Homo sapiens: one gene and its partner. The protein of the gene in region 1 purifies or fractionates together with the protein of each later gene. This does not show direct contact. Each region holds a gene or a part of one and is shown on either strand. Other genes may lie near its edges.

Region 1 (3,812 bases):
GCTCTCTCAGGAAAACATAAGCAAAGAGTCAAGATGCCAAGGCAATCTTGAGTGGGGGAGGTAGAGGCAGAGCAAATGCCTTCCAGAGCTCTGTGGTTATGCTAAAGAGCTTTACAGATTGGTATCATGCTTGGAAGTCTGAGATGCTGAGAATTCCCCACTGTGTCACACTTTCTCATGCCAAGCCCAGTGCCCGGGCAGGTGCTATGCATGTACACATGCATGCACACACACACACACACACACATACACACACACACCCTCAACATGGTCAATTTTCTGCCCACCCTGCTGGGTGTCAGGGCATGCTCCCCAAGCAGCTGACCATGGAACTAACCTGCAGCGCCAGGAAGCGAGCCTTCAGCCAGTAAACACGGACCACAAACTCCAGCCAACCATCCTCGAACAGGTCGCGCTGGGACGAGGCAAATGACAGCTGTAGGAGGTCACCCAGGCAGTGGGTCCCTGGGAAGTCAGGTCCAAATCTGCCATTCACCATACCAGCAGGGCAGTTCCGAGGAGACACTAAAAACCATCAGGCCAACGAGTCAACTTCATGTGTAGCATTCTAATGCCCTTCTGCTTCTCAGAAGTTGCACTTGGCCCTAACCACACCCACCCTATCTCCAGGGGCACCCTAAGCCCCTCAGAGCCCTACAGCTCCCTGAGTGGCAGGCATCAGAGAGGTTGGACCAGTTAAGACAAAGATATGCAGAGACCCTGCCCCCTGCCGAGAGTCAGGGGCAAGGGCAAGGGGAAGCAATTTTACAGACAGCATTGAGTATATCTACATTCCACCAGGTGGTAGTTTAAAAGTCAGAATGAAGCTGGGCCCAGTGGCTCATGCCTGTAATCCCAGCACTTTGGGAGGCTGAGGTGGGCGGATTACTAGAGGTCAGGAATTCAAGACCAGCCTGGCTAACATGGTGAAACCCCATCTCTGCCAAAAAATACAAAAATTAGCCAGGCATGGTGGCACACGCCTGTAGTCCCAGCTCCTCGGGAGGCTGATATGGGAGAATCACTTGAGCCTGGGAGGCAGAGGTTGCAGTGAGCCAAGATCATGCCACTGCACTCCAGCCTGGGTGACAGAGCAAGACGCTGTCTTACCAAAAAAAAAAAAAAAAAAAAAAAAAATCCGTATCACCAGAAAAATTACTGAAGCTACATAATACATAAAGCACTGCATTGAACAGTCACACCAAAACTGAGATCCCACTTCCTTCAATCTTGTGTAACAGCAAAGCAGGGAGGTGGCTCCCTCTGGGGGCTCAGCTACTGCTAACCACTTCTTGAGTATCCAGGAGATTTCCCTGGGACCCTGACAAGCCAACCCAAAAAATGTGCCTACTGTAGATATAAGGCTAAATTCCATGACTCAGTCTCCCGCCTCAGCTTTCTCCCAGCTGCTGGGGGTTCAGATATTAGCCTGGCCACAGAACACATAATGCCTCCTACCTGCAGAGCTTCTGCCTTTGGTCAGCAGCCACTGGTCCAGCTGGAGTTCCATGCAGGAGAGAGACATCAGCATCATGTCCTGCAGGACAGACACAGGAAGGTCAAGAACAGTATCACAAAGCCTCTTCACAGTGTGGGGGGTAGGGGGCTGTGGAAGGAAACAAAACTATACTTTTTGATAAAAATATAATTCTTTCTATCCACTTGCCATTTCATAAGTGATAATCAGTGGCTACTCGCCAGAACATAAAAAGAGCCACATGGATGTATGTTGGGACAAGACTTGGGAGAGGCCAGGAGACCGGTCTTCAGAGTTCTTGTCCTGTTGAAGAGGCAGCCCTGTCACCTGCCAAGTGCTGGGACGGACACTGCATCCAAATTATAGAACTCAACCCTTAAAAGTTCTGGGCAGCTGGTATACCATTCCCAGGGCACTTGAGGAAGCTGAGGCTCAGTGATGAGAAGGCACTTGCCCATTGGGCACAGCTGGAAGGTGATCATCAGCCTGCTTTGCCTGGGGATCAAAGCCCTGGTTCCTCCTGCTGTTTCACAACTGCCCCAGGGGAGCATGGCCTGGTGGGCAGAAGCTGCCAGGAGGTTGCCCTGAGGTAACTCAGTGGAGGGTGCCCACCAAGGGATGACTGACCTACAAGCTCTTCTACCTCCTGTGCTCTCAAGTCAGAAAGACCACCAGGCATCCCTGAATGTTCCTGGTGCTCCTGCTTCAGCATTCAGTGTCCCACCTCCAACAGGAGTAAGGGGCCAGAGCACCTTGTGTTCCCTTGAGCTCCAGGAGGCACCAAGTGGAGGAGGCTGGGGTGTGGAATGCAGCAGGAAGACAAGGCTCAGTGAGGCTCAGCCCCCTACTGCTGGTGGCCCCCAAAGCTTCTCTAAGCACGCTATTTAGCTTCTGCTGTTTTATCATCTGTTAAAAATAGTCATAGGCCAGGCATGGTGGCTCCCGCCTGTCATCCCAGTGCTTTGGGATGCCAAGGCATCAGGATCACTTGAGCCCAGGAGTTCCAGACCAGTCTGGGCAACATGGCAACATGGCAAGACCACATCCTAACATCGTAACAAAAGGAGACCCCCATCTCTACAAAACAAAACAAATTTTTTTTTTTTGAGACAAGAGTCTCGCCTTGTCGCCTAGGCTGGAGTGCGGTGGCGCCATCTCGGCTCACTGCAAGCTCCGCCTCCCGGGTTCACACCATTCTCCTGCCTCAGCCTCCTGAGTAGCTGGGACTATAACCGGGTGTGGTGGTGTACGGCTGTGGTTCCAGCTACTTTGAAGGCTGAGGTGGGAGGACTACCCGAGCCCAGGAGGTTGAAGCTGCAGTGAGCCGTGACTGCACCACTGCACTCCAGCCTAGGCAACAGAGCAAGACCCTGTCTCAAACAACAACAACAAAAGCCTCAGTCACAGTCCTTGCCAACTCAAACAAACCAAATGTTTCCCTTTCCTCCAGCTTCTCCTGGCAAGGCTTCCTGTGACTCAGTAAACAACCCGAGAAGCCCTCCCCATGACTCTCATTCCCTCACACATCCCATGTCTAGTTCAACCTATCAGCTCTGCAACCACAAACCAGCACCCCACTATTACCACTGGATCTCAGCCACTGCTCCCCTGGCATGGCAGCAGCCTCCTGATAGCCCCGTGAGCCCACTCTCACCCCTAAGTGTATCCTCCACTCAGCCATCAGGGAGCTTTCTAGGCACAAACTAGGTTCAGTGACTTCCTGCTTCGACACCCACAAAAAAACCAGGTTCCAGGCCCACAAGTAGATGCAGCCAAACACAACAGCAGCCCCACACCCATGCAAGATCCCTGTCCCCATGCCCTGGTCCCAGTTCAATACCAGCCCTTGAGAGGCTCCCCCTAACCTTGATGTGCTTGTTGCTGCAGTCCCTCAGCAGCGGGTTGGGCAGGCTGGTGCTGTGCCTCCTCCAGCTGTGGTAGACGCTGAGCACGACCTCCGCCAAGCCTGGAGGCCACCTTACCAAGAACTTGTGGCCCATGGCTTTCAGGTAGCGCATCATCAGCTCCAGGATGCCCCCGTTGGTTAGGTTCTCCAGCAGGAACTCATGCACGTCCTGCTTTTCTGCCCGGGGAGCAAGAACAACCTGACTTGAATAAAGAGTACCTTCCATGCCAGGGTCTCCTATTTACTTTGGGACAGTAAAGACTGTTCCCTCCCTCTACCATCTGATCCAGGTGGACATGATACCACGTTGTGGTGCTGAGATCAGGCTACTGGGTTCAATGCCTGGCTCCAACCCTCAGCAGCTATGATTGAGCCTCTCTGAATCTCCGTATCTAAGGTGGACATCAAAAGGGCAGACCTCCAAGTGCT
Region 2 (3,812 bases), on another chromosome or scaffold:
GGATTTGAATCCAGTTAGAAGAACTCCAGATATTCTGCGCTTTACATCATGCCTTTCCATGGGCCTTAATCATCCTCTAGGTCCCAGCCAAAGGTCCTTTAACTATTCTGATCCATACTGACATCCATCTTTTAGCAGGAGGAATACCTATTAATACCTTAGGGCTGTTTGGCCCTACATTATGTATTACTAATTGTAGCACATTTATGTCACTTAGGATGTATATATATTATATATTGATAAAGAGCATACAAAATTTTCATGCATTGTTTAATGTCACTTTGACCTTGAAAGCAAGAGGGGTATTGGTTTTCTAGGAGTATGTTACTGGAGAAATATCAATTTATAACTGAAGAACTAGAACTAAATGTTTTAGATTAGATGGTAATTCAGATTTTAGATGTTTATTCTCTTTGTAGAGGTAAGAAGTATGGAGAGACAGCTAATGAGTGTGGAGAAGCCTTCTTTTTCTATGGGAAATCACTTCTGGAGTTGGCAAGGTATGGATGTTGTATTTAAAAACTGAAGTTTCCTTGTTAAGATTGTTTACTAGCTTTGAGATTTCACAGGAGCTAAGCAAGATTGGTTTTACCTAGAGAGTTTTGAAGGAGCTTGAAGTAGTGATGGAAGTTGTGAATGGCACTTGATACAATTAGTAGTTATATTTAAGTTTTGACTTTTGGAGTCAGTAGAAGCAAAGTTCTTTCCAGTAGTGAATGATCCAAAGTTCAGTGTAGAGAATCTTTAAAAGCACTGTGAGCTAGCTCAAAACAAGGACTGAATAGAGGACAACTGGAAAGAATTAGCAAGTGAGACTGTCCAGTAAAAAAGACTTTTACTATTGAAAAGTTCTTGGCTATGTTCTATCAGAATTTATTAATCAGAATAAGTTCTGTTTAGGGTATACAAACTAGCAAATGATGTCATCTATTTAATCTCAGTTCTGGTAAGGTTTTTTTTTTTTGAGATGGAGTCTCAGTCTGTCACCCAGGCTGGAATGCAGTGGCGCGATCTCGGCTCACTGCATCCTTCATCTTCCGGGTTCAAGTGATTCTTCTGCCCCAGCCTCCTGAGTAGCTGGGACTACAGGCATGTGTCACCACACCCGGCTAATTTTTTATTTTTAGTAGAGACAGGGTTTCACCATGTTGGCCAGGCTGGTCTCGAACTCCTGACCTCAGGTGATCCACCCACCTCGGCCTCCCAAAGTGCTGGGATTACAGGCGTGAGTCACTGCGCCTGGCCCAGTTCTGATAAGTTTTTTTTTTTTTTTTTTTAAGACGGAGTTTCACTCCTGTCACCCAGGCTGGAGTGCAATGGTGCGATCTCTGCTCGCCGCAACCTCTGCCTCCCCGGTTTGAGCGATTCTCCTGCCTTAGCTTCCTGAGTAGCTGGGATTACAAGTATGCGCCACCATGTCCAGCTAATTTTGTATTTTTAGTAGAGATGGGGTTTCTCCATGTTGGTCAGGCTGGTGTTGAACTCCTGACCTCAGGTGATCTGCCTGCCTCCACCTCCCAAAGTGATGGGATTATAGGCGTGAGCCACCGTGCCTGGTCTCTGGTAAGTTTTTAATCTCGTAATCATACAGAACTTTCTCATGATTTGCCGTGAAAATCTTGCTAGAGTATTTTTGGCTATTTAGAGAAATCGGGTGGATACAAAGTTTGGGAAATAGTATGGTCCTATTACAAATGGAATGCATATAGGTCTTGTTCTTTTGACAAGAGACATGCTTTTCAGGCGGCTGGATGGAGGAATATGCTTATTTCCTTCAGTGCTCTTGCAGTCTTAATTTATATTACTAAAGTTTTGATCATTGCTTCCTTGAATATACATAGTTTTGTATTGCCTGCGCTTGGCTTACACTTCTTGCTTTTATAATATAGGACTGTATTTTCTGTCTTAGAAAAAATTGCTAGGTTCTAGCCATCAAACCTTTGGTGCTTTCTTTTGTTCTCCTAGAATGGAGAATGGTGTGTTGGGAAACGCCTTGGAAGGTGTGCATGTGGAAGAGGAAGAAGGAGAAAAAACAGAAGATGAATCTCTGGTAGAAAATAATGATAACATAGATGGTATGTGGAGTTGCATGTGACATTCAAGAGATGCGACGTTGTATATTTCTTGTATACAGTGGTGGAAACGGGGCTCTACCTGTCCTGGATGGTCTCTCCTAAGATGCTTGGGGTGATGATGCCTGCATCTGGTGGAGATTGCAGTGGGGATAGCTGTTTACTGAAGCTGACAGCAGATTTTTGAAAGAGAATAACTTATTTTCTCAAGTAAATCCAGTTATTTCGATTGGGGTTTTTTAAATCAAAAAGATAAAAGCAAGATTAAATTGGTGTTTTAAATACTATTACAACCTTAAGTGTTTTTCTGATGCAAATTTTTTTAAACAGCCTGTGCAGTTCAGTTATTTTAATAGCAGTACTTTTAGAGCCCTTGTACATTTTTTATGTGTGCGAAAATTATATAATTTCTAAGCTGAATTTGGCTGCTATAGTTTTACATATCAGATGGGGGAGAATGAAAAGCTTGGCATCTCTTACCTAACTGGTAATCAGAATGCTCAAGTAAAACAATACCTAGTGTAACAAGCTTGGGTTTCTTTTGCAGTAAGTTGCTCTGCTAGCCGGGATGCTCCCTTTCCTTTTCTCTAGGGGGCAGATAATTTTTAGGCCATCTGCTGAAACTTGGTAGGCTTTTTGAGGGTTTAAAGGGAATGTATTTTTAGTTTCCATTTATGCCTTTATCATTAAACTCGAAGACATGTTTATGCTTCATGTTCTTTAACCATGTAGAGGAAGCAAGGGAAGAGTTGAGAGAACAGGTTTATGACGCCATGGGAGAAAAAGAAGAAGCCAAAAAAACAGAAGACAAGTCTTTGGCAAAGCCTGAAACTGATAAAGAACAGGACAGTGAAATGGAGAAGGGTGGAAGAGAAGATATGGATATAAGTAAATCTGCAGAGGAGCCACAGGAAAAAGTTGACTTGACTCTAGATTGGTTAACTGAAACCTCTGAAGAGGCAAAAGGAGGAGCAGCACCAGAAGGACCGAATGAAGCTGAGGTCACTTCTGGGAAGCCAGAACAGGAAGTACCAGATGCTGAGGAAGAAAAATCAGTTTCTGGAACTGATGTCCAAGAAGAGTGCAGAGAAAAAGGAGGTCAGGAGAAGCAGGGAGAGGTAATTGTGAGCATAGAGGAGAAGCCAAAAGAAGTTTCAGAAGAGCAGCCTGTGGTGACTCTAGAAAAGCAGGGCACTGCAGTGGAGGTAGAAGCAGAGTCTTTAGACCCGACAGTCAAGCCAGTGGATGTGGGTGGGGACGAGCCAGAGGAGAAGGTAGTTACCTCTGAAAACGAGGCAGGAAAGGCGGTTCTTGAACAACTGGTAGGTCAAGAAGTACCACCTGCTGAAGAGTCACCAGAGGTGACAACAGAGGCTGCAGAGGCCTCAGCTGTAGAGGCTGGATCAGAAGTCTCTGAAAAGCCTGGGCAGGAGGCTCCAGTTCTCCCTAAGGATGGTGCAGTCAATGGACCGTCAGTTGTAGGAGATCAGACTCCTATTGAACCACAGACTTCTATAGAAAGACTGACAGAAACAAAAGATGGCTCAGGACTAGAGGAGAAGGTCAGGGCAAAGCTGGTTCCTAGTCAGGAGGAGACTAAGCTGTCTGTAGAAGAGTCTGAGGCAGCTGGAGATGGGGTTGATACCAAGGTAGCCCAGGGAGCTACTGAGAAATCACCTGAAGACAAAGTTCAGATAGCTGCTAATGAAGAGACACAAGAGAGAGAAGAACAGATGAAAG

Evidence for each region.
Region 2: the proteins of CABIN1 (region 1) and NASP purify together in Homo sapiens (affinity purification with mass spectrometry, with the first as the bait; one large-scale study listed by BioGRID). This does not show direct contact.

The regions. Positions count from the first base shown.
Region 1 is NC_000022.11:24,059,672-24,063,483, reverse strand, and holds part of CABIN1 (calcineurin-binding protein cabin-1), read right to left. Parts: intron 3,561-3,812; coding exon 3,343-3,560; intron 1,538-3,342; coding exon 1,459-1,537; intron 526-1,458; coding exon 338-525; intron 1-337. UniProt on the Homo sapiens protein: May be required for replication-independent chromatin assembly. May serve as a negative regulator of T-cell receptor (TCR) signaling via inhibition of calcineurin. Inhibition of activated calcineurin is dependent on both PKC and calcium signals.
Region 2 is NC_000001.11:45,604,517-45,608,328, forward strand, and holds part of NASP (nuclear autoantigenic sperm protein), read left to right. Parts: intron 1-419; coding exon 420-500; intron 501-1,965; coding exon 1,966-2,075; intron 2,076-2,804; coding exon 2,805-3,812. UniProt on the Homo sapiens protein: Component of the histone chaperone network. Binds and stabilizes histone H3-H4 not bound to chromatin to maintain a soluble reservoir and modulate degradation by chaperone-mediated autophagy.